Linked DNA regions of Homo sapiens. The protein of the gene in region 4 interacts with the protein of the main gene of each other region in a biochemical or structural test. Each region holds a gene or a part of one and is shown on either strand. Other genes may lie near its edges.

The links.
Region 1: the proteins of GTF2I (region 4) and USF1 form a complex in vitro, tested with the Homo sapiens proteins (2 studies listed by BioGRID).
Region 2: the proteins of GTF2I (region 4) and STAT1 form a complex in vitro, tested with the Homo sapiens proteins (one study listed by BioGRID).
Region 3: the proteins of GTF2I (region 4) and POU2AF1 form a complex in vitro, tested with the Homo sapiens proteins (one study listed by BioGRID).

What each region holds. Positions count from the first base shown.
Region 1 is NC_000001.11:161,042,300-161,050,794, forward strand, and holds the start of USF1 (upstream stimulatory factor 1), read right to left. Parts: upstream 3,679-8,495; 5' UTR 3,559-3,678; intron 2,686-3,558; exon of another isoform or gene 2,613-2,685; intron 1,062-2,612; 5' UTR 977-1,061; coding exon 969-976; intron 584-968; coding exon 534-583; intron 374-533; exon of another isoform or gene 372-373; coding exon 256-371; intron 1-255. Other genes in the region: ARHGAP30 (rho GTPase-activating protein 30), read right to left, coding at 5,416-7,035, 7,125-7,390.
Region 2 is NC_000002.12:190,968,247-190,976,464, reverse strand, and holds the end of STAT1 (signal transducer and activator of transcription 1-alpha/beta), read left to right. Parts: intron 1-553; coding exon of another isoform or gene 554-577; coding exon 578-653; coding exon of another isoform or gene 654-657; exon of another isoform or gene 658-927; intron 928-1,532; coding exon 1,533-1,635; intron 1,636-5,747; coding exon 5,748-5,762; 3' UTR 5,763-7,316; downstream 7,317-8,218. UniProt on the Homo sapiens protein: Signal transducer and transcription activator that mediates cellular responses to interferons (IFNs), cytokine KITLG/SCF and other cytokines and other growth factors.
Region 3 is NC_000011.10:111,351,121-111,355,859, forward strand, and holds the end of POU2AF1 (POU domain class 2-associating factor 1), read right to left. Parts: exon of another isoform or gene 3,456-4,739; coding exon 3,141-3,455; 3' UTR 1,135-3,140; downstream 1-1,134. UniProt on the Homo sapiens protein: Transcriptional coactivator that specifically associates with either POU2F1/OCT1 or POU2F2/OCT2. It boosts the POU2F1/OCT1 mediated promoter activity and to a lesser extent, that of POU2F2/OCT2. It recognizes the POU domains of POU2F1/OCT1 and POU2F2/OCT2.
Region 4 is NC_000007.14:74,652,907-74,661,045, reverse strand, and holds the start of GTF2I (general transcription factor II-I), read right to left. Parts: upstream 3,329-8,139; 5' UTR 2,978-3,328; intron 1-2,977. UniProt on the Homo sapiens protein: Interacts with the basal transcription machinery by coordinating the formation of a multiprotein complex at the C-FOS promoter, and linking specific signal responsive activator complexes.

The DNA.
Region 1 (8,495 bases), on a different chromosome or scaffold from region 4:
TCCCTTGGATAGGGCCCCAAAACAAAGTCCTTCAGAGACATGGATTCAGCCATTCTCCCTTCTTTCCCCACACAGAGGTTTCAGCATACATCTAACCTCACACCAGTCTCTACTCCAGTATTAGCACCTCCCTCCCCTGCAACAGTCCACTCTTTCAACTCATCCTCCAAGCCAGGTCTCCCCAAGACATGTTCAATTACCTCCCTCAATCCCAACCCCAGATAACACCTGCAGCCACCTGGCCCCCTCCCTTACCTGGCCCCCATTCTCAGTTCGGAAGACGTACTTGACGTTGGGGTCAGGGAAGGTGGCAGCTGACTGGATGCTGGCAATAGCCACACTGGTTGGGTCTTCCCCAGTAGCCACTGCACCTGAATTAAAAGAACAAAGGAAAAGTCTGTGAGTTAACTGCCTTTCTACCCCCGTTCCATTTGCATGTCACGGAAGGAGGAGGATGCACAGGAGATGGTCTGGTGGGGAAGGAAGGGAGGCCATGATGGGTTCTTAGTCTTGGTTCTGTTTCTAGCACTCACCTTCCTGAATCTGCACTGTCCCCTCTTCCGTTTCAGCTGTTTTCTGCTGCCTGTTTGTGGTGAAAGGACAAAAGGAAGAGTATGAGAAGAAGTCAATGAGAAGCTCACTGGCCCAGTAACATATGGCTGCAAACTCATTGGCATTCCCAACAGAAGCTGGGTTAGGTTAGAATAACAACTAGTGTTTACTGTTTACTATGTACATAAGCACTAAGCTAAGTACATTACATGTAATCTTATTTAGTACTAAAAACAGCACCACGAGATAGATAGCACTACTTCCATTTTATAGATAGAGAAACCAAATCACACAGTAAGTGATAGAGTAGAACCTGAATCCAGGTCTGCCTGACTCCAGAGGCAGTGCTCTTGGTCATTTTGCATTCTTCCAGGCCACCCATCTTTCATCCCAGACCCTACCTCTTCTTCACTCACCCCTTCATCTCTCTGTGAGGGGGCACATCCGAGGAACTGGTCCTTTTTTGGAGGTCTTTGTATCTCCTGATTCACAGGCCTGAGTGCTAAGTCCTGGTAGAAATCATGAAGTTTGCAATGAGTTTAGGAAACAGAACAGTATCTCTGGTTCTAGAACTTAGGTTCCATGAACACATAGCCAGGAAAATAACCCAGTCATCTGCAGGGGACAATCAGCCTCCACCATACTGATGTTGAGGACTGGCCTACAGTGATTGAAAAAGCAAGGCTACAAATAGTGTTCCCCATCCCTCCATTATCACTCCAACTCCTGGTGGAGAGTGGATAATTATACTGGAAGACAGAAACAACACTTTTTTTTTTTTTTTTTTTTTGAGACAGAGTCTCTCTCTGTCACCCAGGCTGGAGTGCAGTGGCGCGATCTCAGCTCACTGCAACCTCTGCCTCCCAGGTTCAAGTGATTCTCCTGCCTCAGCCTCCGGAGTAGCTGGGATTACAGGTGCACACCACCACGCCTGGCTAATTTTTGTATTTTTAGTAGAGACGGGGTTTCACCATGTTGGCCCGGCTGGTCTCGAACTCCTGAGAGCATGATCTGTCCACCTCGGCAGCCTCCCAAAGTGCTGGGATTACAGGTGTGAGCCACTGCACCTGGCCGAAACAACACATTTCTTTCTTTTTTTTTTTTTTTTTTCTGAGACAGAATCTTGCTCTGTCACCCAGGCTGGAGTGCAGTGGCACAATCTCGGCTTACAACCTCCATCTCCTGGGTTCAAGTGATTCTCCTGCCTCAGCCTCCTGAATAGCTGGGATTATAGGTGCCCACCACCACGCCCAGCTAATTTTTGTATTTTCAGTAGAGATGGGGTTTTACCATATTGGCCAGGCTGGTCTGGAACTCCTGACCTCAGGTGATCCGCCTGCCTCGGCCTCCCAAAGTGCTTGGATTACAGGCATGAGCCACCGCACCCAGCCAACAACACATCTCTAAATGGATCATTAAAGCTATTATGACCTGCCATGATGGCAGCTTCATGGGAATCAGGAAGGGCCATGTATTGGCCCCACCATCAAAAAATACAGTGTCATGGACACTGATGCTTCTTCCAGTTTCTCAGCCACATGTTGTCCATCAAGACATTTCTGTTTTCAAACCTAGGAAGAGGAAATCTGAAGCCCACTACCACTGGAAGAATATCCCTGACCACAAAGACTAGACTTGGCATTTGGGCCCCATTCTACTGACAGGACTCTTGTTTTGGGGTATCCAGATTTATATAATCTGTTAGAAACCCTAAAGCCCAAGTGGATCCTCTTCAAGCATTCTCTATTTTATTCATCAAGCCTTCCTGCAGAACAACACTGTTGCTAAAATGTTGCTATGACAACTCCAAATCAACTAAGCCTGAGCAAGAAGGGGTAAAAAAAAAAAAAACAGGGTTCTGAAGAAGAGACAAAGGGGGAAGAATCCACCTACAAGCTCTGCCTTAGGACCCTGACACCCAGCCAGAGGGCAGGAAAAACAAAGAGCTGGGCAGACATGCCTCCAGAAAGAAACAGCTACACAGTACAAAGCAATAAGATAATCCCAACACAAAAGGGGCAAGATTTTTGGAAATTCTCTACCCATAAGGTCCTCCAAACCTTTCCTATCCAAGGAAAATTTTCAATGGATAAGCCTCGGAAAGACCGCGTCCGAGGAAAATGTTGAAAAAGGAACTGAAAGTGAAACCGTACAGACGAAGTAACGCTGCAAGGAGATCCCAGTCGATAAGGGGAAGTAGCACTAGTGTTTTGGGACCACCTACATTTCCATCTTCAAACCTGAAGAGGAAATGCCCTGCGAAGCTTGCCGCGCTGACTGCAGGGGAAGGCAATGAAATAGAGGGCCCGGCACAGGAGGCATCTCTATTGGCCACAGCTGTCAGCCGGGGCAGTCTCTGAGGACACCCAGCAACGGGGTCAGGGTACTTATTCAAATCTTAGTTGGACATCCGGAAGCATTTCCTAGGCATTAGGGATCGGTGACACGGAAACAGGGATGGGACGTTGTGGTGTGCACGCTCAGGCCAGAAGGGCCCAGTAAGAGCCCTTGCTAAGTCTGGACACAAAGGGAAAAAAAATCAACTCCCGAAAGAAGTCAGGCACCTAGACCTTGCCTTAGAATGAGGCGTCTCCCTGCAGGCTCACCAACCAGAAGGCGCTTACGGAGCTGAGCGCCCGCCAGGCGCGAGCCCGGGAGCCTGCGCCGTGACCCCGCAGCCCCGCAGTCTTAGCCCCGCGCCCCAGCTGCTCCGCGGAGGAGGCAGGAAAGGGCCTCGGGGACTAGGGAGCTCAAGCGCCCGGTGCCGGCGGCTGCGGCGCGCAGCTGGACAGCGCAGGAGGGCTGGGACGCTCGCGCTCTGGGGAAGGGAGAGAGTTTGGCCCACAAAGCAGGGTATGAGATAAAGAACCAGCACAGCCCCCTCCCCCAAAACAAAGGCTTCCTCCCCAGCAGTGTTCTCTAACTTGAAAAACGGAAACAAAATCAAAGCTGCCCTGCCTTGCCAGTCCACCCAGTTTCCAGACTTCTGCCCGGTCCTACACTCACCGGCCAAGGCCGTCTCAGCTGCCGATTTTCTCCAACTGTGTTCTCCCTCTCCCGGCCTAGGTATCTCCATAGACAGCTGCTCATGCGCACTTCCAGCCCGCGGCCATGTTGGTGAGGGGCGGAAGTGTCGCTCTCGCCCCGCCCATAAACTCAAACTCAGAACTGCCCCACTTCCGCTCACTCCATCTTGATGAGAGTTGGTGTTTGTGGGTTATTTGTGAAGCCGGAAAGAAGCCGTGTCCTGGAGAATGTAGCTGAAGGCCTGGCCACTTTCGACAAGAACGGGAAAGAGACGACTAACTTGTACTAATATCTTAGTGCTTGGCAGGGCATTTTTTCATTCCAGGAAAGAAGAGAATCCAGCTGAGATCAAGGGAGGGACGTCCGACGGAGGCGCCATCTTTAACAAGGGCTATTTGGGAGGCCATCTTGGCGCAGGGCGTCTTTTTGAAAGGTTACCTGCTAGAGATTACGACCTATCGGGGCATGCATAGAATTGGATATGTTCCTTGTTATTCGCGTCAGCAGTCACTCATCCAAAGACCCCAAAGCTTCTAGTGTTCTAAAGGCTCACACCTTCTGTGACAGGAATCTTGATTCCCATTCTTCTCAATCAAGACCTACCCTGAATGGATTTGGAGTAGTGTGGTATAATGGGAAAAATTCAAGCTTGGGGGCCAGGCAGATCCAGGTTTCAAACCCATCTCTGCCACTTCTTACCTCTGAGACCTTTGGCAAACATTTTGACTTAATTGAGCCTTAGTTTCCTCATCTATAAACTGGAGATACTAGCACCAACCTTCCAGAATTGTGTGGATTAAATAAAATCAAGGACATAGATTTTGTGAGCACAGGATACTTAGTCCAGTTCCTGGCACATAATGAACGCATTATGTAAATATAAGTTTCTCTTCCTTATTTCCTGACCACCATGAACCTAGCTCTAGTTTCTGGCCACTAGTCTCCATGACAACAACTGAGGAAGAGCACCCAAACAAGAAGAAGAAAAAGAATGTTTTGCCAAATATGTGAAGATATAATACCTATCACCAAAGACTTTAATAAGAATAATGAGACTCCACACTATGTGTAAAAATACAGCTTTTATTCTGAGACATTGACCTTCACTAGAGTGGGACCTGTGGCCCCAGCCTGGCTGGAGAAGCAGTCCCAGGGCCTGAGTGACACCATTTCCCTTTCCTGAAATAGGAACAAGTTATTCCAAAGGAGAAAGGAGAGCCCAGAGAGATCTGTACAGGACCTCTCTTGCACATGGTGACTGGAGGCAGAGGGTGGGGAGCTGGAGAGGAGTCCAGTCCCTCCAACAAATATTGAGGGCTTCAAAGAGCTCTTCCTGGACGTTTCTCTTAATCTGGATTTAAAAGGGACAGGAGGTATCTTAGGGTCCAAGAACATAACAGGAATGGGCAACTCTAGAAGTGTTTGTGTGTGGAAGGCCCTAACCTGGCCCTGTCCTCCCTGTCTCTACCTTTGGCTTTCATGAAGAGAGATTCACAGCTCAGAGGAAGGGAGGAATTTCTCCAGTCTTCACTTTAACAAACTCTTTTAAGTTTTCTGCCTACCTTATGTTCCCTTTGGCCAATGACCCACTCCCTGGGAACAAGATCTTGTTGACTTTCTTGGGAATCTCCTAAGAGATAAGTGCTTTGTGTCGGAGACAAGTTCAGGTAAACCAACCAAGGCAGTGCCTCCCACAGTCAAAGAGAGAAGCTGGAGGGCCAAAGCCTATAGAGTTGGGCACTACAGCTGCTCATGCTGCAGAGGAGACAGCTAGTCAGGAACCCTGGAGATTCAAGACAACTTGCTGGTCCCCTTTGCCCAGGGCTGTGGTCCTAATCACAGTCCTTCACCTTTCCCAGGGTTAGCCTGTGTTTCAAATGCATATGACCTGCGCTGAGAGGACAACAGGGGGTCAGGAACCTGGGGTTCTCTGGGGGGCAGACTAAGACGACTCCGGGATCCAGACCCTTCTGCACCTTCAGATGGGAGCTCCAGGCAGCTAAGGGGCCGAGGAGAATGGGCAGAGATCATGCTACAAGGGGAGGTTCTGGGGATGAGGCAGTAATCCCCACCCTCAGTACAGGTCTGGGTTCGCCGAACTCCTTGAGCCTCAGTCCTTTGGCGGTCCCGGGCTAGGGCCACAGCAGCATCAAAGGAAAGACTACCCCCATTCCTCCAAGAGGATCGAGAAGCTCGGGACCCCCAAGCCCTTTCTCCAGGAGTCCCATCAAGCCGGCCAGGCCTCGGGCATGGATTTGCAGGTGCCACATGAATCTTGCTACACATTGCACTGGGCATCTTGGCAAACTGTGGCTTGGGGGGCACCACAGGCACAGAGCGGACCTGTTGGACCTGAACCAGAGTGGAAGCTAGACGCATGCCCACGCCACCCAGGCCAAGAGAACAGGGGCATAGACAGCCGTCTGGACTGGGCTGCCCCTCAGGCTCCATCTCCTCTGGCTGAGGTGGCTGTGGGGCTACCTCTTCCATCTCAGAAGAGTGAGGATTGCCCTCTTTGGCACAGTCAACCTCCAGGGACGCTACACCTGAACCTTCAGAGAGGGTGTCCTCTTCTAAATAGTACCCTCCAGCCCTCTGGTCTCCCTCAGCCTCTCCATCCCCACTCTCCCGTTCCTTGCTGACCTCCCCTGCTCCTCCTTCAGTTGCTGCTTCTGGGCTTCTGCTGTCTTCACCATCTCCTTGGTCTTTTCTTGCTTCATGGTACCCCTTCTCCCTCTGTCCTTTGTCCTCATCCTCTCTGACTCCCTCAGCCTCTTGTTTCTGTACAACTTCCCATTTCTCCTCAGCAACTTGATCTTCCTGGGCCCCTTGCTCTAGGTCCCTTCCAGCTTCTACCTGGGCTTCCTCTCTTTGTTCATCCTCTTCTCTCTCAATTTCTTTTTCCTTCTCATCTGTATACTCATCTCCTCCTGGTTCCTCCACACCTTTAGCCTCCATACTGTCAGCCTTCTTCTGACCTTTGGACTTCTCTTCCTTGGCCTCTGTCTCTTCCCTACTCCCTTCTCTCAATCTGACTTTTGTCTCTTGGCTTCCCCCAGCCTCCCCTCTATCCTCACTGGCCTTTCCAGCCTCCACCTTGGTCTCTGGACTTCCCTCTGCCTCTTCCCTGATGTCTAGCCTGCCTCCAGGCTCAGCCTGCTTGTCCTCCCCAACTTCCCAGCATGCCTGCTCTTCCCCACCCTGTCCCAGAGCCTGCCTTCCACATCCTGCTGCCTCTCCCTCCAGACTCCCTGAACCCTTCCAGATTGGGGGTTTAGGTCCCAGAAGGGGACTTAGGTCATCATAGGCACTCAGGAAAACTTCCTCCCCATTTTCCTCCTCAACTTCAGGCCTGGGGCCAGCGGAGTCCAGGGAACAGCAGCTGGGGGCCAAGACAAACTGTGCCTCATCCAGAGACAGGTCATCCAGGGGTGGCTCCACAGAGAACTCCTCCACCTGTAGGCACAGCATTGTGACTCAGGACCAGGAGGCCCTGTCCACCCTTGACTCCATGCCACCCCCAAACCCAGCACGGCTCTCCTTACCTGAGGCCCAACTCCCAGGAGCTCCTCCAGGTAGCCCATCCCAGGGTCGTCCTCCCCAGGGGAGAAGGCTGCTCCTGCTGCTTCTGCCTGGGCCACCTCCCCATCCTCTGCCCCCACCCACTCAGGTTCTGAGCTGCTTGAGTCCTCTAGGAAGGAGAAGGAGTCCTGCACCTCCTGGGACAGCGAGTCCTCCAGGGCAGGAGCCAAGTCGTCTGGGCCTGAGTCTGCCAGGGGACTTGAGGCTGGACTTGCTTCCAACTTTTCATCTGTTGGGGGAGAAGTAGTCCCAGGAATACAAAGGTCAAGCCCTGACCCTTTTCAGTGTGAGTCCTCCTAGCATTGATATAGCAGGGGCCCAGCACTCCCAGCATTGCTACTCTGCATGACTGATCCTTTCAGACCAATGTCCCTAGTTATTGGCTTGCTACCTTAATTGAGACCCTACCAGGTGCCAAGCACTGTGCTATGTATTTTACAATGCATTGGCATTTTTTCCTCCAAACTATTATGTGGGGTATTGTCCTCATTTTACATATGAGGAAACTGAGGCTCAGAGAGATTAAGCAATTTGTCTAAGGTCATGTAATGAATAAGCAGTACAGCCAAAATTTGAACCCAAGTCTACTTAACTCTATAGCCCATGTTCTTACCCACTATCCTATCCTGCCTCAGGACTTCTCATGAGTGACACTTCAGGAACTGGAGTCAGAGCAAGGATCAGATCCTAGCTCTGCTACTTCTACCTAAATCAATTGCAAATTGATTAACCTAAGTCTCAGTTTCCACTGCTGTAACATAAGGCTAACAATACCTATGTCATAAGATTATGAGAAAATGAAACAAACCAATCCTGCAATCACAGCACTTGGACCTTTTTTTTTTTTTTTTTTTTTGAGACGGAGTCTTGCTATGTCTCCCAGGCTGGAGTGCAGTGGCGCAATCTCAGCTCACTGCAACCTCCACCTCCTGGGTTGAACCAATTCTCCTGCCTCAGCCTTCTGAGTCTCTGGGATTACAGGCATGCCTCACCACGCACGCCTGGCTAATTTTTTTTTAATTTTTTTTAGTAGAGACGGGGTTTCACCATGTTGACCAGGCTGGTCTCGAACTCCTGACCTCCAGTGATCCACCCTCCTCAGCTTCCCAAAGTGTTGGGATTACAGGTGTGAGCCACCGTGCCTGGCCTAGCACTTGGTACTTAATAAACTGTTTTTTGTTTTTTTTTTTTTAATTTGAGACAGAGTTTTGCTCTTGTCGCCCAGGCTAGAGTGCAGTGGCGTGATCTCGGCTCGCTGCAGCCTCTGCCTCCTGGGTTCAAGCGATTCTCCTGCCTCAGCCTCCCAAGGAGCTGGGACCGCAGGCATCTGCCAC
Region 2 (8,218 bases), on a different chromosome or scaffold from region 4:
TGGCCCAATTACTTACTAGATCCTATTTTTATTAGATAATTATTAAGAGGAGGCCTCATCTGAGAACACAGGTCTCTTGCTTCTCAGTTGTCAATGAATTGCATTTGAGAAGGTTCGAATTAGACCTGTTTTGTTTGGAACACACCAACAAAGCTGTTTTTCAGAATCAGAAATCTCAATATTAGGACAATTACTTTGGAATGAAGATGTCCCCAGCTTACCTTGACAGCTGTGAATATTCATTAGCCAGGCTAATGCCAATAAACTGGATAGAACTTTGCATATTTTGGGCTCAGACTTCTTGTAAGATTTCAAGTTGTGTAAAGAGAAAGCTCCTAGCTAGTGTCCTGCTGAACACTAGCTTATTTCCAGACTGAATTCAGATCCTTCTTCTCGTTGTTTCTGCATTCCCACTAGAATTTTAGGTGACTCAGGCAGGGAGGTTATAGCTCCTTAAAGTTTTAGGAGGCTAAGCTGTCTAGAAACACAGTAGAACTTTAATCCCCCCGAAAAGTTGATGTTGTATTCTGATGGAATTTCGGTTGATGGAAAGCGTACACAATGTGTTTATTTCTAGCACCAGAGCCAATGGAACTTGATGGCCCTAAAGGAACTGGATATATCAAGACTGAGTTGATTTCTGTGTCTGAAGTGTAAGTGAACACAGAAGAGTGACATGTTTACAAACCTCAAGCCAGCCTTGCTCCTGGCTGGGGCCTGTTGAAGATGCTTGTATTTTACTTTTCCATTGTAATTGCTATCGCCATCACAGCTGAACTTGTTGAGATCCCCGTGTTACTGCCTATCAGCATTTTACTACTTTAAAAAAAAAAAAAAAGCCAAAAACCAAATTTGTATTTAAGGTATATAAATTTTCCCAAAACTGATACCCTTTGAAAAAGTATAAATAAAATGAGCAAAAGTTGATCAGAGTGGGAAAGTAGTTCTTTTCAATCTAGAAAAGGCCAAAGTAATGATTGAGATACACTGTCTCCACTTGCTTTGATTTTGTTGTTTCATTTTATAAAAGGTAGAAAAAATTTTGGAAATGTCATTGTCAGTTATTTGGCCTGCAGCACTGTCTTGGGGTGAATGGATGTAGCCTTCATGTAAAAACACTGTGTGGAGCAGCTTTATCTGCATTCAAACCTCAAGGTAGGGATGAGGGACTCCCCAGACATTTCTCTGGTGCTTTTCTGTCCAGGGTAAGCCACGAGGCATTGTCATCTCAGGGTAGTGCACCGCACATGCTCACACCTAGGCTTACCCAGGCAGAAGCGGCACAGATTCCAGTCTGGCTATTGCTTATCACATCCCTGGAGTGTGAAACATTTCCCAAGGGGCTGGGCTGGGGACATGAGCCTCCCATGAGCTGTACTTTTGCAAATGTATTTTACAAGTGTATGCACTTACCCAAAATAAAAATATAACGTGATAATTCAATTACAGACAAAAGATAAAGTGTGTAAGTATGCACTAGTGCTTTCATCACTCAGATGTTGACATTGCTCTTTTCTTTTTCCCCATTTTAGTCACCCTTCTAGACTTCAGACCACAGACAACCTGCTCCCCATGTCTCCTGAGGAGTTTGACGAGGTGTCTCGGATAGTGGGCTCTGTAGAATTCGACAGTATGGTGAGTACCACGGCTGGCCTGTGTGTAGCTCTCAATAAGTGTGTGTGCTCAGAGGCAGGGAGCGCACCATGGCAGATCCCGGGCCTGTCTGCGGGAGGGAGCCCTGGCGGAGCCAAGGAGAGTGCAGTGCTCAGATGAGCCATGACAAGTTGGAGCTGCTGGATTTAAACCACCTACATCATCAGTGGGATTTTTATTCCTCGCATTCAGCACCTTCCAAAAAACAAGTGACATTTCTAATATTCAGGTTTCCTCCTCTCCCCTTTAAAGTTGTCCATGTAGAAATTTCATATATTAAGGAACTAAGATTTCTTTGATAAGCAAATGTTTTTCTTCGGAATGCGATTTCATCACTGTGTCTAGGGGAGGGAGTGTTATTTTTAGAAAGGGAGGGACTAACGCTTGGTAGTTACAGTAATTAGAGAGAATTATACTTTAGCAGCAATGAGATTACTTCATCTGCCTTATATTTGAGAGCTAATTTGTACAAGTAGCTCCTGGGGCTGTGAAGGGCTTGCCAAGAGTAAAAGGTTCAAGGAGTGAAATAGTTAATGAGATTCGTGATAGAAATGGGAATATGATTGTCCACAAAAGGGAACATCTTCCTTTTGGAGGGTGCTTTTTTAGTATATCAACTAGTATTGTTTGCCTTTCAGCCTAAAATCCTTCCTCTTAAAGATTGTGCTTGCTTGGCTGGATTTTTGCTGATGCTGTTTAATTTTAAGCTCTTTTCCACATGGAGCTATTCCAGCTCATTTTTAAAAATTTATTTAATGCTTCCAAAAAATATCCTGAGTTATTACTGGCCTTTCTTCCTTACTGTATACCCGGTGCCTGGCAAAAAGTAGGTGCTCAACAAAGAGAGGAAGGCAGGGAGGGGAAAGGTGAGCGAGAATGAGAGGGCGTCACTCTTCAGACATTTGGGGAATGCGATGATAAGGCCTCAGTAAGATCTGCCTGGATTCAGGTTTCTCATGTGTAATTTTTTGACTTTTTTCCTCACCTTAAGCACGGGCTACAATCATTAGAGATTGTACCTTCCTACACTTTCCTGATTGTTGTTGACGAAATAGGCCATTTAGAAAAACAGTTAGCTATTGTGGCAGCGAAATAGTTTCATTCCTATTGGCAAGTGTAAAATGAACCTTTTCTGCATGTAAGAAGGATCCTGCTAGAGTTTCGCTCCCAACACTGCTATAGGCCTGGCACAAAAATGGAATAAATATAAAGCCCTATTCAGAAAATATGTTACATCACAGGAACTGTAAAATGGGGGGATTTTTTATACCTCCTTTGTTGTTCCTGAGCAAATTACATCATCATCACCACCACCATTAATAGGTGACATTAAGCACCTACAGTATACCATGTACTTCACAGGTAGTAACTCATTCAGTCCTCACAGCCACCTTCTGAGTTAGGTGTTATTGTTATTCCTACTTTGACAGATGTGGGAACAGAGCCCCTCCTCCCCACACAGCCCCTTTTATGTAACTTGACTAAGATCAAGCAGTTAGTAAATGGTAGAAAGAATATTTGAATCTACCTAGTGAGTCTCTAGTGCATGCTTTTGTCCGGTATCCTGGAAAGCCTCCCACAAAAAGCTAATCTTTGCCCCATTCAAAACATGCACCCTGAAGAAGCTGTTTGTACAGGATTGGGTTTATTCTGTTATTAAGACAAAGGCATCATGGCCTTTGGGTGAGAGGCCCGTATGTGTTTGGGATTTGGCAATCAGCATTCCATCTCTGTCATCACCATTATTGAGAAAATAGATGGATTGGTTCCCTCTCTGCAGTCCTGTGGAGCAGTTGGACTGCTCTCTCTGCTCTCAGGATGATACTGTGAGAACAATTTAAATATGCTAAGCACATGTCAGGAAACAGTTTTGTGGTCTTTGGACACTCGCTGTAGCCATTCCGTTCCATTTCAGGTGATTTTATTCATTTCATTTGTAGAATAAAATAAATCCATTTCACACACACACACACACACACACACACACACACACACCCTCTATACACCACTAAAGCCTCCCATTAAACCCATAGAAGACTTAAAGAGCTAAAAGAGGCTATAATATAAAAAAAAAAAAAGAAAAGAAAAGAAAAAGAGTTCATAATATAGGCACGGCACTGGTTAGACAACGGTTGAATCAGTCTCTAAATTGGGTTGACTTCACAATGGTTTGCTGTCCTGCCCCTTGGCCATGACTTCCATCCAGCATCTACTCTTAGAATCAGAGTGTATACTCTGAAACAGAAGCAGCTCTCCCCAAGCTGGCTGTCTTCTGCCAAGTCTGGAGGTTGCAGCTCTGAAAGAGGGTGGTACCAGGGGCCAACGCCTGGTGCAGCCTCAGGAGCAACAGGACCATAGGCTCCTGAGGAAATTGTCCAAGAGAGCCAGAGCACCAGTGTTCTCTGCAGTATGACTTGGGCATTTGTTTAGTCTGGATTTCCTGTGTAATCAGTGTTTTCCTCTGGGACTGTAATAGAACCAGTCTACTCTCCAAGAGGCCTTTAGCCAAAGCTCATAATGATAGGACTAGCTATTAATTGTCTACTACTTTCTGTCTACTATACTAAACATTTTACGTATGCCATCTAATTTAACAAGCCTATCTGCTAGGTACTATTAATCCCCTTTTGATAGATGAAGACTTTGAGATTTAGAGAGGTTAAGCCACTTGCCCTGGTCACGCAGTGACAGGATCTGAATCTGGGCTTCCTCTCTTCCTCTATCTATCTATCTCCCCCTCCCTCCCTCTCTTTACCCCCACGGTCCACCCTATTAAGCACACATTTGAAACATCAGCCAGGCCGGGCGCGGTGGCTCACGCCTGTAATCTCAACATTTTGGGAGGCCGGGGCAGGTGGATCACCTGCGATCAGGAGTTTGAGACCAGCCTGGCCAACACGGTGAAACCCCATCTCTACTAAAAATACAAAAATTAGCCAGCCATGGTGGTGTGTGCCTGTAATCCCAGCTACTAGGGGGGCTGAGGCAGGAGGATCGCTTGAACCTGGAAGGTGGAGGTTGCAGTGAGCCAAGATGGTGCCACTGCACTCCAGTCTGGGCAACAGAGGAAGACTCCGTCTCCAATTTGAAAAAAAAAAAGAAAGAAAAAGAAAAGAGAAACATAAGCTAGACTGAAACATAGGGGCAACACTTTCACTGTGCTTTTCAATCCAAAATAATTTTCCTAAGAGCCCACTATGTACCACACACTATTGAGCACTTGGGATTAAAAAAAAGTTCTCCAGAGGCTTTCCAGTCTAGTGCCATGTGTCTCAGTCTTGGTGCTACTGGTATTCGGGGCTTCAGAATTATTTGTTGGGGATTGGTGGGGTGGGGAGCTTTCCTGTGCTTCGTAGGAGGTTCAGCAACACCTCTGGCTTCTACCAAATAGATACCAGTAAGCACATGCACCCTCACAGCCAGATGGGACAATCAGCAATGTCTTCAGCCATTGCCAGGGGACAGAATCATCCTCGATTGAAAGCATCTGGTCTAAGGGGAAAGACCAGTGTGGAAGTCAGACAGGAAGTCACTGGCAGGCTAGTATCCTTTGGATGAACAGTTTACTTACTATAAGTTGTCCTGGTCAAGGCAGCTGGGCAGAAGGCACTGGTGGGGAAGGTGAAGGGGTTCTTAGTAATTCTGCTTCTTTAGTCTGTACCTGAAACACAGTCATTGATTTTACCCACTGAGTGGCCTTTAGGGGAAGTGTATCATTTCCCTCTCCTTCCTCTCTCCCTCTGGCATATGGCTCAGCATTTCCTCACCCGTTTCACATGAGCAGATTTGACACGTTGCTCTGTCCCCAGACTTGCATAACAGCAAAAAGCTTTATGCAGTCTGGATGGATTCACAAAATTAAGCCAGTGGGCAGCAGAGTAATAATCCGTCAGCTTAGGTGATATAAAAGGTCTTGATTAGCCCAGGATAATACATAGTACATGCTGAAGGCCCTCTTATTCCACGGTATTTATTTGCCATTGCAAGTATCTTCCTACTACTTCATTCTAGAATAGACAAGCAATGTTTAATGTATGAGTCTGCATTTCACAAGATCAGTGTAATAAACTTAACCACATTTTGTCTTTTTACAGATGAACACAGTATAGAGCATGAATTTTTTTCATCTTCTCTGGCGACAGTTTTCCTTCTCATCTGTGATTCCCTCCTGCTACTCTGTTCCTTCACATCCTGTGTTTCTAGGGAAATGAAAGAAAGGCCAGCAAATTCGCTGCAACCTGTTGATAGCAAGTGAATTTTTCTCTAACTCAGAAACATCAGTTACTCTGAAGGGCATCATGCATCTTACTGAAGGTAAAATTGAAAGGCATTCTCTGAAGAGTGGGTTTCACAAGTGAAAAACATCCAGATACACCCAAAGTATCAGGACGAGAATGAGGGTCCTTTGGGAAAGGAGAAGTTAAGCAACATCTAGCAAATGTTATGCATAAAGTCAGTGCCCAACTGTTATAGGTTGTTGGATAAATCAGTGGTTATTTAGGGAACTGCTTGACGTAGGAACGGTAAATTTCTGTGGGAGAATTCTTACATGTTTTCTTTGCTTTAAGTGTAACTGGCAGTTTTCCATTGGTTTACCTGTGAAATAGTTCAAAGCCAAGTTTATATACAATTATATCAGTCCTCTTTCAAAGGTAGCCATCATGGATCTGGTAGGGGGAAAATGTGTATTTTATTACATCTTTCACATTGGCTATTTAAAGACAAAGACAAATTCTGTTTCTTGAGAAGAGAATATTAGCTTTACTGTTTGTTATGGCTTAATGACACTAGCTAATATCAATAGAAGGATGTACATTTCCAAATTCACAAGTTGTGTTTGATATCCAAAGCTGAATACATTCTGCTTTCATCTTGGTCACATACAATTATTTTTACAGTTCTCCCAAGGGAGTTAGGCTATTCACAACCACTCATTCAAAAGTTGAAATTAACCATAGATGTAGATAAACTCAGAAATTTAATTCATGTTTCTTAAATGGGCTACTTTGTCCTTTTTGTTATTAGGGTGGTATTTAGTCTATTAGCCACAAAATTGGGAAAGGAGTAGAAAAAGCAGTAACTGACAACTTGAATAATACACCAGAGATAATATGAGAATCAGATCATTTCAAAACTCATTTCCTATGTAACTGCATTGAGAACTGCATATGTTTCGCTGATATATGTGTTTTTCACATTTGCGAATGGTTCCATTCTCTCTCCTGTACTTTTTCCAGACACTTTTTTGAGTGGATGATGTTTCGTGAAGTATACTGTATTTTTACCTTTTTCCTTCCTTATCACTGACACAAAAAGTAGATTAAGAGATGGGTTTGACAAGGTTCTTCCCTTTTACATACTGCTGTCTATGTGGCTGTATCTTGTTTTTCCACTACTGCTACCACAACTATATTATCATGCAAATGCTGTATTCTTCTTTGGTGGAGATAAAGATTTCTTGAGTTTTGTTTTAAAATTAAAGCTAAAGTATCTGTATTGCATTAAATATAATATGCACACAGTGCTTTCCGTGGCACTGCATACAATCTGAGGCCTCCTCTCTCAGTTTTTATATAGATGGCGAGAACCTAAGTTTCAGTTGATTTTACAATTGAAATGACTAAAAAACAAAGAAGACAACATTAAAACAATATTGTTTCTAATTGCTGAGGTTTAGCTGTCAGTTCTTTTTGCCCTTTGGGAATTCGGCATGGTTTCATTTTACTGCACTAGCCAAGAGACTTTACTTTTAAGAAGTATTAAAATTCTAAAATTCTATTAATCTCTCATTAATAGTATTTAATATAAAGATTCTTAAAATTACTGACGTTATGAATTGGTTTGATGCTTTTCTCATGTACCTCAATCCTTATTTTAAAATAAGATCAATAACACTATTTTCCTAAATGTTGTCCTTACCTGCCCTACACATATTCAGAATTGCTATGGCAGATTAAGACATGTCAATGGAAGAGGTCAGAGGAGTAATATTATTGGCAACAGCTGTAATAGGTGCCATAAAAAGCAAACAAACAAAAGTATTTTGGTTCTTTGCGACCACAGCTGTCCCCAAATATACAGATGATTCAGCACTTATTTTAAAATGAATCTGGGTATTGCTAATACCCCCAAATTAGCAGTTTTTAATTTTAAAATACATGAGAAATGGGACTTTGTCTTGTCTCCAAAGCAGTCATCTAAAATCTACACCCCCACGATTAGATGAGTTATTACTGAGAAGTTATTGCACCCACAAAAAAGCTGCCATTTTTTTCCAAAGATGTCAAAAGCTAGAAGGCCAGGTCTTCTCAAAGTAAAATACACTGTGTATTGGGGAAAAAAGGGTAAGAGGCATAATTACCAAGTTAGGCATAGTCTGTCAAGTTGTATTTAGCTATTATCATGGAATAGTGTTATTCCCTGATAATGAATGTTGGCATCATAACCAGAATGATTATTCTCATCTCCATATCTTCGTATTTACATCTAGGAAATATAAAGCTTATTTATAGTGAACACTGAGAGTGGTCTCTCTCCAAGGAGTAAAGTAAATATGCCCTGGCTA
Region 3 (4,739 bases), on a different chromosome or scaffold from region 4:
CTCTCTCCTCCAAAATCTGGAAATAAGGCTCATAGCAGAATAGTGTAGATAATTTTAAAACAATTACTCCAACGAAGATTAACAATGTAGGCAGTGAGCTCAGAGGCCTTTAGAAACTCAGAAAATCACCAGGAAAGGGAGACCCCTTCCAAACTGTAACTCACTCCATTGACTGATCTTGGAGGGGACTAATTGGCTTCTGGAATTTCCATTCCGTGGTGATGTCTGGCCCTATGAGATGGCTTCCTTAGGTCATGGTTCCTGCCTGATGTCACATGCTCCTGGATCCTGATTGATGGATTTTCAGAGCCTGCTATGGAAATGCCCGTGGTAGAACTTATCCCTGAACACTCAGCGTCATGAGAAGTTACTCATGATGGCGTGAATAACAGGAAGAGCAATCAAGTTAAAAGATTTCCCTCTCTCCTCAGCTCCCCACTCTCCTGGACAACAAGCCCCCTAGCCACGCGCATGTCCTGCTTGGGAGAACTGGACTGCAGGCACGGTGGGGACTGGTTTTATCTTCTTCTGCAACAGATCAATTTGCAAAGTCAACAAGACTAGTGTTAAGTTCCTTCCTCTAATCACACTGTCTAACATGGGACTGAAAGCTTAGGGGGATCAACTTGATAAGAAATGAAACACTTTGGCACAGAAAAGTCTCTACAAATCTTTATGAAAATGTTTCCATCTTAGCAGAGTAACTCGGGAAGAAACCCAGATGGACTACTACCAAGACATTTGACCTCAAGATAAGAGAAAAAATAGACCATTTATCTTAGCAAACACGTAAAGTACTATATTTCTTTGCTAGTTTTTGCCAACTTTAACTCCTTTACGGAGGTTGCTTCTGCACCCTCTCAAATGGTACGCTGAAAAATCTTGCATAGTGTCTTTTTTTATGGAAAACCAGGGCTTTTAATCAAATAGGACTGAGAGCCCTGCCCACCTACTTACCATCAGTACCGACAAAGATGTAAATGCATCTTCTCAAATGCTGTCTTGAACTTTTAAATCTAAAAAATATCTGAATAAAAACAATTCAAGATTTGTGTACTGGGATTTAAGGCAGGCACAGAGAAATCTGGGTCAAAATTAATCTTAAGCAGAAAAAGAAAATCCAAAACAGACAACTTTCTCCAGAGTTTTTATTTAAAGTGGGCAAAGAAAATATGTCAAAGAAACTGTCATTTCCCAGAAAAGTCATTTCCCAGAAAAGTCCATGACTTCTACATGGATTCTACCAACTGAAATGTCTGCTTAATAGTGACGATGGTGCTATTAGCAGGTGGGTGAGCCAGTTCCCAAGGTACACGTTCACTATCAAGAGCTAAGCACACCTGCTAACAACTCAGTCTCCTACAAACCTGATGTTTCTCCAGCAAAACAAATTAAAATTAAACCTAATGGTACTTCTGGCTGAGGCTCCAGAGGTCCCCAGGAGGGAGGGTGTTTGCGTGGAGGGGGCCTTGGTTCCACAGAATGGTGGCTTATGGACGCTTTTAAGACACTAAAGAAACCCACATGGTAAAAGGCTGGGTGCGGTGGCTCACGCCTGTGATCCCAGCACTCTGAGAGGCTGAGGCGGGCGGATCACAAGGTCAGGAGTTCGAGACCAGCCTGGCCAACATGGTGAAACCCCGTCTCTACTAAAAATACAAAAATTAGCCAGGCATGGTGGCATGCACCTGTAATCCCAGCTACTCGGGAGGCTCAGGCAGGAGAATCACTTGAACTTGGGAGACAGAGGTGCAGTGAGCCAAGATCGCACCATTGTACTCCAGCCTGGGCAATGGAGTGAGACTCCGTCCCAAAAAAAACCAAAAAAAAGAAAGAAAGAGAGAGGAAGGAAGGAAGGAAGGAAGGAAGGAAAGAAGGAAGGAAGGAAGGAAGGAAGGAAGGAAGGAAGGAAGGAAGGAAGGAAGGAAGGAAGGAAAGAAACAAAACCCACATGGTAGCACTAAGCCTAGGCGAGGACCCATCACCTTTAGGCTTAATGGGGTCTTGGCCTCCACAGCACCAGCAGAGGGCCTAGAGGTGAGACAGAAATGGCCGACCAAACACACCCTTCACCCTGTTTACAACAGCCCAACTTCCCTTGCACGTATCCTCAAGGAGAGCAGCAAAACCATCTCTTCAAGCAATGCTTTCCTTTAGTTTATTGTTCTTCTTAATAACCAAGTAATCTGGAGCCAAGTCATTCCTCAGCCTTCCTCCTCCCTGCATCAAACTCAAGCTTCCTCCCACACCCCTCTCTCCAACTAAGATGCACAGCCTGTTCCCATCCCTCCTCTGTCCCTCTCTTCGTCACTGGCCTGTCCCCACCCACCCTGATGTTCTTTTCTCCCTGCCACCCACTTCCCACCCCTTACTACTCTGAGCCCCAGGCCTTGAGATTTTGCTGCCTGGACTGTAAATCTGGCCGAGGCTGAGAAGAGCAAACAAAGGAGCAACTGTGGGAACTGACAGCTCAAGGACTCTGGCATCAGGGTAGGCCCTTGGCTGACTTTCTCAGGAGGTGCTGTCGGGGCTGGTCTTCCCGCCGGCCACCACATACATCTTAAAATTACAGAGGGTGTGAGTGACCCTAAGATGGTTCAGCAGGCACTGGAGGAAGGAGGCCTTTTCCAAGAAATGAAATGTGACAGAAATGAAAGCCCATGGACCACAGACTTGGCAACATTTGACATAAAATGTTATTGCTAAAATCCCTATAATTACCTCCCAAAATGGAACAGAATTGAAAAAAGAAGTAAGAAAGAGAGAAGAAGCGAGGGAGGGAGGGAGGTAAAGAAGGAAAGGGAGAAGGGAAGGAGGGAAGGAAGGGAGGGAGGAAAAGGAAGGAAGGGGTTGGAAAGGGAGAAGGGAAGGAGGGAAGGAAGGGAGGGAGGAAAAGGAAGGAAGGGGTTGGAAAGGAAGAAGGGAGGGAGGGGAAGAATGGAAGGATGGGGGAGAGGGAGGAAGTGAGGGAGGGAGGGGAAGGAAGAAGGGAAGGAAGGTTTACAGGTCTACAATTCTAGCTGTGCGTAGAAAGTGTAGTCATGAAATGACTACTCCAAACAAGCATGAACCTGGGGCTCAATTCCAGGCTCATTTTAAAATCCCAGTTTCAGGGAACAGGACTCAGGTGGGAGCCACGCCTAAAAGCCTTCCACAGAGAGAGTGTGGTTAAGCGCATAGGCGTCGCTATCCTCTTCCTCCAAAAGCAGCTTGTCGATGGTCAACGAGCTGGCGGCTCTTCTGGGGTCTTCCATGTCCTGAAGGACTGGCTCTGGGATAGAGATGGGGAGCTGGACAAACTGGGGCCCAGGTAGGGCTGGGGCCGGAGGCTGGTACTGCAGGGTGGAGGTGGGTAGTGTGGAAAGGGGCTGAGGCCACGGGAAATAGGTGAGGGGTGCCTGGTGCTCTGGGCCCTCCAGCGGGGGCCCCACTGCGGGCGTGGCGGAGCTTCTTGTCTGTGACAGGAAAACACGTGACAGAGGGTTAGCAGCCCCAGGAGACCCATCCACCCATCCTTGCCCTTAGAGGGGTCTCCATCTCCCCCTTCAATTCTGCCCTTTCCTGGTTTCTCACTTCATGGGGCTCCACCTCCTCCTGCTCAAAGTCTTCCCCAAGGGAGGAGCCAGGCTGACTTCAACCGCAGCCCCAATCCTGACCCTTCCTAGCTATATGTCTTTGCTCAGGCCACTTCCTGCTCAGAAGGCTCATTTTTCTCATCTACGAAATAGAATACAAACAGTAATGAACTCATTGGGTTAGGCCAATTAGAGAGGATTTTCCAGGTTTCGTTGAATACAAAATTCATTTCTATTTCAGAGATCTTAAAACATTAAAAATATATGCATCTTAAAATCTGTGAAAATATATGTTAAACCACAGCCTGGAAGCTGTATCTGGAAGGTGGCCACTGTCCTGCCCAGACACAAAGACAGTCCGGGCTCCACACAACAGCTTTGGAGGTCCCCTTGGGCCAACACAGCTCCATCACCTCCCACCCCTCTAGTGGTGGCCAGCATGGGGAGGCCTGGCCATCCCCAGATGGGGGAAGCACTGCTTTGTCAGCAAACTTGGCCTTCCTTCCTGCTGCTGCCTGGTGCCTTCCACATCCTCATCGTCCTCTGTCTCTGAGCTGATCTCCATGGCCATCCCACTTATGGGCACCCCCCATGACCCTCCAAGTGTTAGAGTCCTTCTCCTGAATGCTCTGCGAGTCATACCTCTCACCTGCACGGCGACTGCCCTCACAAACCTCAGATCAGGCCTGCAACAGGGGCGGGACCTGGATTCTTACTTTTCTTTCACACTTGAGGAAAGCAGATAGAAGAGGATGCTCTCTGCATGGATTCATGAGAGGGAGGCCAAAATCTCCCCCTACCATCCCTGTCTCCCCTGTCATATATCCCTCCTACTGTCACTGTGTCTTGACAGCAAACTGTTAGAATCATTTAGGGCAGGGCTTTTCTCAACCTCCTGGGGATCTTGTTAGAACGCAGCTTCTGGCACAGGAAGTCTAGAGTGGGGCCTGGGATTTTGCATGTCTAATCAGATCTCAGGGGGACTCCAATGTGGCCAGTCCAGGGACAAGAGTTTGAGTAGCAAGGCTTTAGGGTGTTTTTGCACAGAATGATAGAGCTGGAAATGGTCTCAGAGGCCTTCCAGCCTCCTGAAATCCGGGCTGAGGTGTACACCCCACCACAGCATAATCACTTCCTCTCCTTTGACTTAAGCCAGTGGTCCCC
Region 4 (8,139 bases):
GAATAGAATTACAGACTTGTCACAAAGATTAAATAAGAAAAATACTGTACATCCAAAGCGCTCAAGAGCCATGGAGGGGGCACGGAAGACACTCAAATGTAAGCAGCATTGCTACCACCGGCAAGGCACGAGGACGATGCCAAACTGGAGGGGGAAGTGGAGGGAGAAAGACATAGGAGGAAAAGGCTTCTTGTCCCTGCCCCTACGAGCTCAACACCCAGTGACTAGGCCAGATGCAGAGGAAAGTAAAAGTGCCCTTAGCCGGGCGTGGTGGAGCGCTCCTGTAATCCCAGCTACTCAGGAGTCTGAAGCAGGAGAATCGCTTGAACCCGGGAGGCGGAGGTTGCAGTGAGCCGAGATCGCGCCACTGCACTCCAGCCTGGGCAACGAGAGCGAAACTCCGCTTCCGAAAAAAAAAAAAAAAGAAAAGAAAAGAAAAAGGAAAAGGAAAAAAAAGAGAGAAAATAAAGGTGCCCTGCGAGGAAGGGCACACAAGTTGATTGGGAGACTAAGAAGGAACAAACTCTGACTATGCAATATAAGAGAAGACCACAGGCCGGGAGCGGTGGCTCACGCCTGTAATCCCAGCACTTTCGGAGACCGAGGCAGGCGGATCACCTGAAGTCAGGAGTTCAAGACCAGCCTGACAAACATGGCGAAACACCGTCTCTATTAAAAATACAAATATTAGCGGGGCTTGGGGGCAGGCGCCTGTAATCCCAGCTACTCGGGGGAGACTGAGGCAGGAAAATCGCTTGAACCCGGGAGGTGGAGGTTGCAGTGAGCGAAGATCGCGCCACTGCACTCCAGCCTGGGGGGATAGAACGAAACCCTCTCAACAACAGCAGCAAAAAAAAAAAAAAAAGAGAAGACCTTAAGGAAGTGGCTGCATATGAGCAAGAAAGATTTCCATAGGCTGAAAAATGTCATTCCAGCCAAAAGACCAAGATCTCAAGGAGGAGGAGAAACGAAAGCCAAGGTAGCAGCCACAGAAAAATCCTGTAGCAGGAAATAAAATCGGTCATCCCACACCACAGGCCTCAGCCTGGGGAGAAGACCCCGCCTCCGCAGGGCACTCTACCTGCACGTTCTCATTTGCAAACTAACTTCCCCTTTTGTTCCCTGAAGGACTGGAGACTTCTCCTCTGCACTGTTGGCTGATCAAGCCATTGTCTGCGGCAAAGTTGAATTTAAAAGAGATGAGGCCCAGCGTGGTGGCTCAAGCCTGTACTCCCACCACTTTGGGAGGCCTAAACGGGAGGATCACCAGAGTCCAGGAGTTCCCGACCAGCCTAGGCAACACAAGAAGACCCCATCTCTAAAAAAAAATTTTAAATTAGCCAGGCGTGACCCAGGGCGGTGGCTCACGCCTGTAATCCCAGCACTTTGGTGGCAGGCCGAGGCGGGCCGATTGCTTTCAGCTTGATTCAAGAGTTGGAGACCAGCCTGGCCAACATGGTGAAACGCCATCTCTACTAAAAATACAAAAATTAGCCGGGCGTGGTGGGCACGCCTGTAATCCCAGCTACTCAGGAGGCTGAGGCAGGAGAACGGCTTGAACCCGGGAGGCAGAGGTTGCAGTGAGCCGAGATCACACCAGTGCACTTCAGCCTGGGCCACAGAGTGAGACTCCATCTCAAAAAAAAAAAAATTAGCAGGGCATGATGGCATGCGCCTGTAGTCCCAGCCACTGAGGAGGCTGAGGCAGGAGGATCGCTGGAGCCCAGGTGTTGGAGGCTGCAATGTGCTATGATTGTGCCACTCTGCGCTTCAGCCAGGGCAACACAGAGAGACCCTGTTTCTAAAAAAAAAAAAGAAAATTAAGCCGAAAGCGATGGCTCACACCTGTAATCCCAGCACTATGGGGGGCCAAGGTGGGAGGATCGCTTGAGCCTAGGAGTTCAAGACCAGCCTGGGCAACAAAGTGAGAACGCATCTCCACAAATAATTTTTTTTAAAAAAAGGAGGTCAGTAGTCAGCAAGAGCTGCGCATCGCCAAGAGTGGACACTACTCCAACAGCACCCCACCTGTGAACATCCCCAGCCGCAAATCAGCGCAAATCCATAACCTAGGGAGGACAAAATTCGCTACACGAAAAAGCAAAAGCTGGATTAAGAAAAAGTGGAGAAGTCGGGGAGCGGGAAGGAGACAGCTTTTTCCATTTCATTTTCCTTCTTCCTCTGCACTCCCGTCGTCTGGGTGCTGGCTGAACCCAGACGGCTTAATTTTCATGGCCTAAAGCTGAAGTTTTCCTTCCGGTCATTGTGTTTATTTCCCCCAAAGAACAGGCCCCGCGGGGCAGGCGCGCCGGGCCGGCCCGGGACAAAGCCCACTGCGGACTCCACCTGGGAGCGGGGCGGGGCGGGGGACAGCGCTCCCGCTCCCCCGCCCGCCGCAGTTACCAGGCAACGCGCGGCCCCGCCCCCGCGCCGGTTGGCCAATCCCGCGCGTCTGCTGCCCCGGCGCAGGAGCCCCAGATACACCAGGCGAGCGCGACCCCACGACGGCTCGGGCCTGGCACCGCGCGCGCCCCCGCACCGCCTAGCCGGCCAATCAGCGCGGCGGGGCATGCGCAGCCCGCAGGGCCGCTCGCTCGCTCGCGCGCGGGATCGCACGCGCGAGGCGCCCCCCCACCGCACGCCGGTCGGCGCGCGCGCCCCTCCCCCACGCGCACTGAGGCGCGCGCGTGCCACTGTCGTCCCCCGCGACCGCGTCCGTGCCGCCCCACCCCCATCGCCTCGTTTCGGCCACTGCCAAGGCCGGCGGGGCTCGAGACCCGGCGAGGCGGTGGGGGTGGGGGTAGGGGGAGGCGGCACGGGCGCCCCCCAAGGCCCCACACCGCGCGCGGCGGGCCGCGGCTCCCAGGCCCCTGTCCCTGCAGGCCCCGGCGGGGCAAAGTCTCTAATAAAGGCCCCCGCTCGCAATGGCCCCCGAGGCGGGGGCGGGGGGCGCGGGGATGAGGCGAGAGGGACTCACCCGAGTGCGGCCGCCTCCAGGCAGCTCCGGGGCCGGGGGTGCCGAGGGGAGGCGAGTGTGGGCCGCGCGCGGGCTGCGGCCGCCGCGGAGCAGCCTCGGCTGAGGGGAGCTGGCGAGCGGACGGGAGGCGAGAGGGGGCGAGGGGCCCGTGCGTGTCGGTCGCGCTCCTGTCACCGCCGCATGGCCGCCCCGCAGGCAGGGCCTCGCTCAGCGCCTTGATCCGATCACTGGGGGACAGAGGCAGAGGCCGGGGTGACCGCGGCAGGCGGGCGGCCGCGGCTGGAGAGCGCGTGCGGGGAAGCGGGGGGGCGACCGGTGGCCCCTTTTCTCTGCTCTCCCAGCTTCTCTCTCACCCTCCTCCTCCTCCTCCTTTTTTTTTTCTTTTTTTTCTTTTTTTTTTTTTTTTTTTTTTTTTTTGTTCCTCGAAGGCGCGTTGCGCCTGCGCATCCGCAGCGCCGCCCAGCGGGAGTTGTAGTTTCGGATGCGTTCCCCGTCAACGCGGCGGCGGCGGTCGTGGACTACAACTCCCAGGAAGCACCGCGCCGGCTAGCCCCGAACCCGAGGACGAGGCAAGCGCGGCGCCCGGCCCTCTCCAGCAAGGGCTGTCAATGGAGGCGAGGGTGGTGGGAGCGAGAACATGGCTGCACCTGGGGCCTGCGCGGCCGCCCGGGTGGGGGAGGGGAGCCGGGGTGCAGAAACGGAAATCTGGACGGGTGGTGGCTCCGGCGTCGTCCCCACCGAGCGCCAGCCGCCGTCCAAGTCCGCCACTTGCTCTTGCACCCCACATTCCTTGCAAATTGCGAGGCAGGGAAGCTGCAAAAGCCGGGGAGCCCCGGGCTGGGCCGTCGCCCTCCTTGCTCTGCAAAAGGGGAGTCCTTCCGCCTTGCACCACCCTCCAGGACACAAAGAACTCCTCTCTAGTGTTTTCCAAGCTGGCCTCCAAAGAGACCGTTGCCCCCAAGTTCGGACAGGCGAGAGGGGAGGAGACCTTGTGTTTTAATTCCTCCCCCAGACCCTCCGCCTCTATCTCTCCCTCAGGATTTGGAAGGAAACTTGCAAGGGAGTGGGAGCAGAAATCCTGACTCGTAGCTCCTGTTTTGTTCTGTCAACCGCGATGCGATTTAACTCAAACTCCTCCCCCTACCACTATTTTTTGCTTCTCAACTTGAATTAGCCGGTGGGTTTTGAAAATGGAGAGACATTACTGTTCACCTAAGTTAAACTCCAAAACTTTACAACCCCGAGGCCGACGATTTTTAGATGTTTATGTAAAGCACGAGATTGAGTGGTTTTTTGATTCCCGCCCGCCCCCCCACCCAGTACCACCCACTGGGGATTCGGGCCACGACGGCCATCCTCCCCCCACCCGCCGCTTCTCGGTAGGTGGCGACCACGACGCTTTTTCCAGCCTCCAAGCCTTTGTCGCTAGCGAGAAAACTTTCCGAGCAGCCAGTCTTTTGATGTGGGTTCCAAAAACCTTTCCTTTCAATCTGGGTTCTCCGATTGGCATTCCCCATCGTCTCTCTTGCACAGACCGCACCCAATAAAGCCTCCTCTAGAATTTTCATGTTGGATTTTTTTTGAAAAATACATGGAGAGCGTAAAGCTCACCGGAGAAGCAATCTGATTACAGAAGCCTGAATTTTTGCGATTTCCCGGACAATGTCTAGGATCCCTTCGGTCCTTGCCTAATAAGATTGTGACTCTCCTTTGTCGATTGTCTCGAAAGTCATTCATTAAGTTTGCACAAGAGCAACTTTCTTTTTGCACTTGTATTTCATTGACATTTAGTAATATTTAATTAAATTCTCTATTCCCAATACCACGTGCCACTGGCATATATTTAGGAACAAATTTAACTCTTGAGAAGCCTATAACTCACTCTAGTAAGAGCAGCCAGCCTACGAGATGCAGATTTCAGCTGCTGTGGACTTCAGTGAGTATCTTTTGTTGAGAGAGTGGTTTCTCCACCTGGAGGGGTCAGGGAAAGGATTTCCTGGGTATAGTGGAGTCGTGGAGTAGAATTTGGGGGGATGTTACAAAGTGAGTTAGCAAGGCAGAAGTTTATTTAGCCAAGATGACTCTTATCATCGTGAAAACGTTTGGAAGGTAGTTCCTTTCTTCTATGAATTTGTTTAGTGGTTCACAGTGGAATTTTTTTTTTGAGACCGAGCCTCGCTCCGTCACCCACGCTGGAGTGCAGTGGCGCGATCTCGGCTCACGGCAACGTCTACCTCCCGGGTTCAAGTGATTCTCCTGCCTCAGCTTCCTGAGTAGCTAGGATTATAGGCGTGCACTACCACGCCCAGCTAATTTTTGTATTTTTAGTAGAGACGGGTTTCTACTAAACATGTTGCCCAGACTGTTCTCGAACTCCTGACCTCAAGTGATCTGCCTTCCTCAGCCTCCCAAAGTGCTGAGATTACAGGCGTGAGCACCGCACCGGGCCCACAGTGGAATTTTGCTGCCTCTTCATAAACAACTCCAACTTCTTTGAGACTGAAGCAATTCCTAAAACGGTTAGGTCAACATGAGCTGGTTTTGAATTACCTCTAGTCAGAAAGCTGTCTCTGTTGAGGCAATGTGTATGCAGACAAAGCGTTTTTCTGAGCATTTTGCCATTAAGGTTTGTAACCCTCAAATTCATGTGTTACAGTCATAAAGATCTTGCGTGTTCTGTCTTCATTAAGGTCTGGCTCACTGCGGCTTGTTGGAACACTTGTCAACCAATTTCTCCTTCATCTTAGTGGCATAGATACTACATTAATTGTGGCCATTGTTATAAATCACTTTGGATACTATCTCTCTGCAAAGCTGGGGTTTTGTTTTACTTTTTTTTTTTCCTGTTTTTGAGACAGGGTCTTACTGTATCACCCAGGCTGCACTGCAGTGGTTCGATCACAGCTCACTGCAGCCTCCAACTCCAGATTCAAGCCATCCTCCCACCTTAGCCTCCCAAATGCCTGGGACAACATGTATGTGCCACCACACCCAGCTAATTTCGTTTTTTGTAGAGACGGGTCTCACTATGTTGCCCAGGCTGGTCTTGACTTCTTGGGCTCAAATAAGCCTCCTGCCGTGGCCTCCAAAGTGCTGCGATTACAGGCATGAGGCACTGCACTGGGCCCAGGTTTTTTTTCAAATGTAGGATCAGATTACTGTTTTGGGGATTGGGCAACAGAAGAAAAATAATAGTTGATTTGTGTCTAAAAATGATGTAGTAGGAAGTCCTCCTTTATTTTATTTATTGATTTTTTTGGGAGGGGACGGGGTCTTACTCCGGTGCCCAGGCTGGAGTGCATGGTGCGATCTTGGCTCACTGCAACCTCCAACTCCTGGGCTCAAGCGATTCTGCTGCCTCAGCCTCCCGAGTAGCTGGGATTACAGGTATGCACCACCATGCCCGGCTAATTTTTGGATTTTTAGTAGAGACAGGGTTTCACCATGTTGGTCTGTCTGGTCTCAAATTCCTGACCTCAAGTGATCTGCCTGCCTCAGCCCCCCAAGGTGCTGAGATTACAGGCGTAAACCACTGCACCCAGCCAGGAAATCCTCCTTTAAAGACTAGAATCGGGCTGGGCACAGTGGCTCATGCCTGTAATCCCAGCACTTTAGAAGGCCGAGGCAGGCAGATCACCTGAGGTTAGGAGTTCGAGACCAGCCTCAGCAACATGGAGAAACCACATCTCTTCTAAAAATATAAAATTAGCCGGGCGTGGTGGCGCATGCCTGTAATCCCAGCTACTCAGGAGGCTGAGGCAGGAGAATCGCTTGAACCTGGGAGGGAAAGGTTGTTGTGAGCCGAGATCATGCCATTGCACTCCAGCATGGACAACAAGAGCGAAACTCCGTCTCAAAAAAAAAAAAAAAAATACTAGAATCACAGGATGCATATACCAAGAGATGCAGACTGGATTGGGGCTTCAGCAAGAGCAGATTTGCGGCTCTCAGCTCATGGTCAGTCAGGACATAAGTACAGAGTCCAACAGCTGGCAGAACCATCCATGTTATTTCAATTATTTCCCCCTCTCTTTTTGTTAATGTTTAGCTTAGTCTTCAGATAAGCGTCCATATGATGTGACTTTTCCATTCTTCTGTTTGGTGGGAAACAAAGCCAGGTCAAATGGGCCTTGGCCAAGCTAGAGATGGATCTGGACCCCACGTGAGCACTTCCACCAACTCAGATGCATCTTCGCTTAGACTCTGGGCTTAGAGCTTCGTTGACTGCTTTGAAATAGCATGTGATTGGCGCGGTGGCTCATGCCTGTAATCCCAGCAGTTTGGGAGGCCGAAGTGGGAGGATCACGAGGTCAGGAGTTTGAGACCAGCCTGGCCAACATGGTGAAACCCCATCGATACTAAAAATACAAAAAAAATTAGCCGAGCATGGTGGCATGTGCCTGTAATCCCAGCTACTCGGGAGGCTGAGGCAGTAGAATCGCTTGAACCGGGGAGGCAGAGGTTGCAGTGAGCTGAGATCGCGCCATTGCACTCCAGTCTGGGCAAAAGAGCGAGACTCCGTCTCAAGATGGTGAAACCTGTCTCTACTAAAAATACAAAAAATTAGCCGGGCGTGGTGGCAGGCGCCTGTAATGCCAGCTACTCGGGAGGCTGAGGCAGAGAACTGCTTGAACCCGGGAGGCGGAGGTTGTAGTGAGCCGATATCGCGCCACTGCACTCCAACCTGGGAGACAGAGCGAGACTCCATCTCAAAACAAAAAAGAAAAGAAAAGAAAAAAGAAATAGCACGTGATCATGGGACCCTGCATAGGAACCCCTGAAAGCCCACGGTGACAGAACGGTGGTTATGCCACTTTGTTGAGATCTCTGTTGTTGGGATCATATGCTCTTTTTAAAGATGTTTTTTTGAATCCAAACTGAATACTCTTTTGGTGACTCTGTTATATCATTTTTTTTTTGGTAGAGATGGAGTCTTGCTATGTTGACCGGGCTGGTTCCAAACTCCTGGCTTCAAGCAATCCTCCTGCCTCAGCCTTCCAAAGTGCTATGATTACAGGCGAGAGCACCTGCACCCACCGTCTCTCATATATTATATTATATTTATTTATTATTATTATTATTATTTTTGATGGAGTCTCACTCTGTCACACAGGTTGGAGTGCAGTGGCACAAGCTCAGCTCACTGCAACCTCCACCTCCCA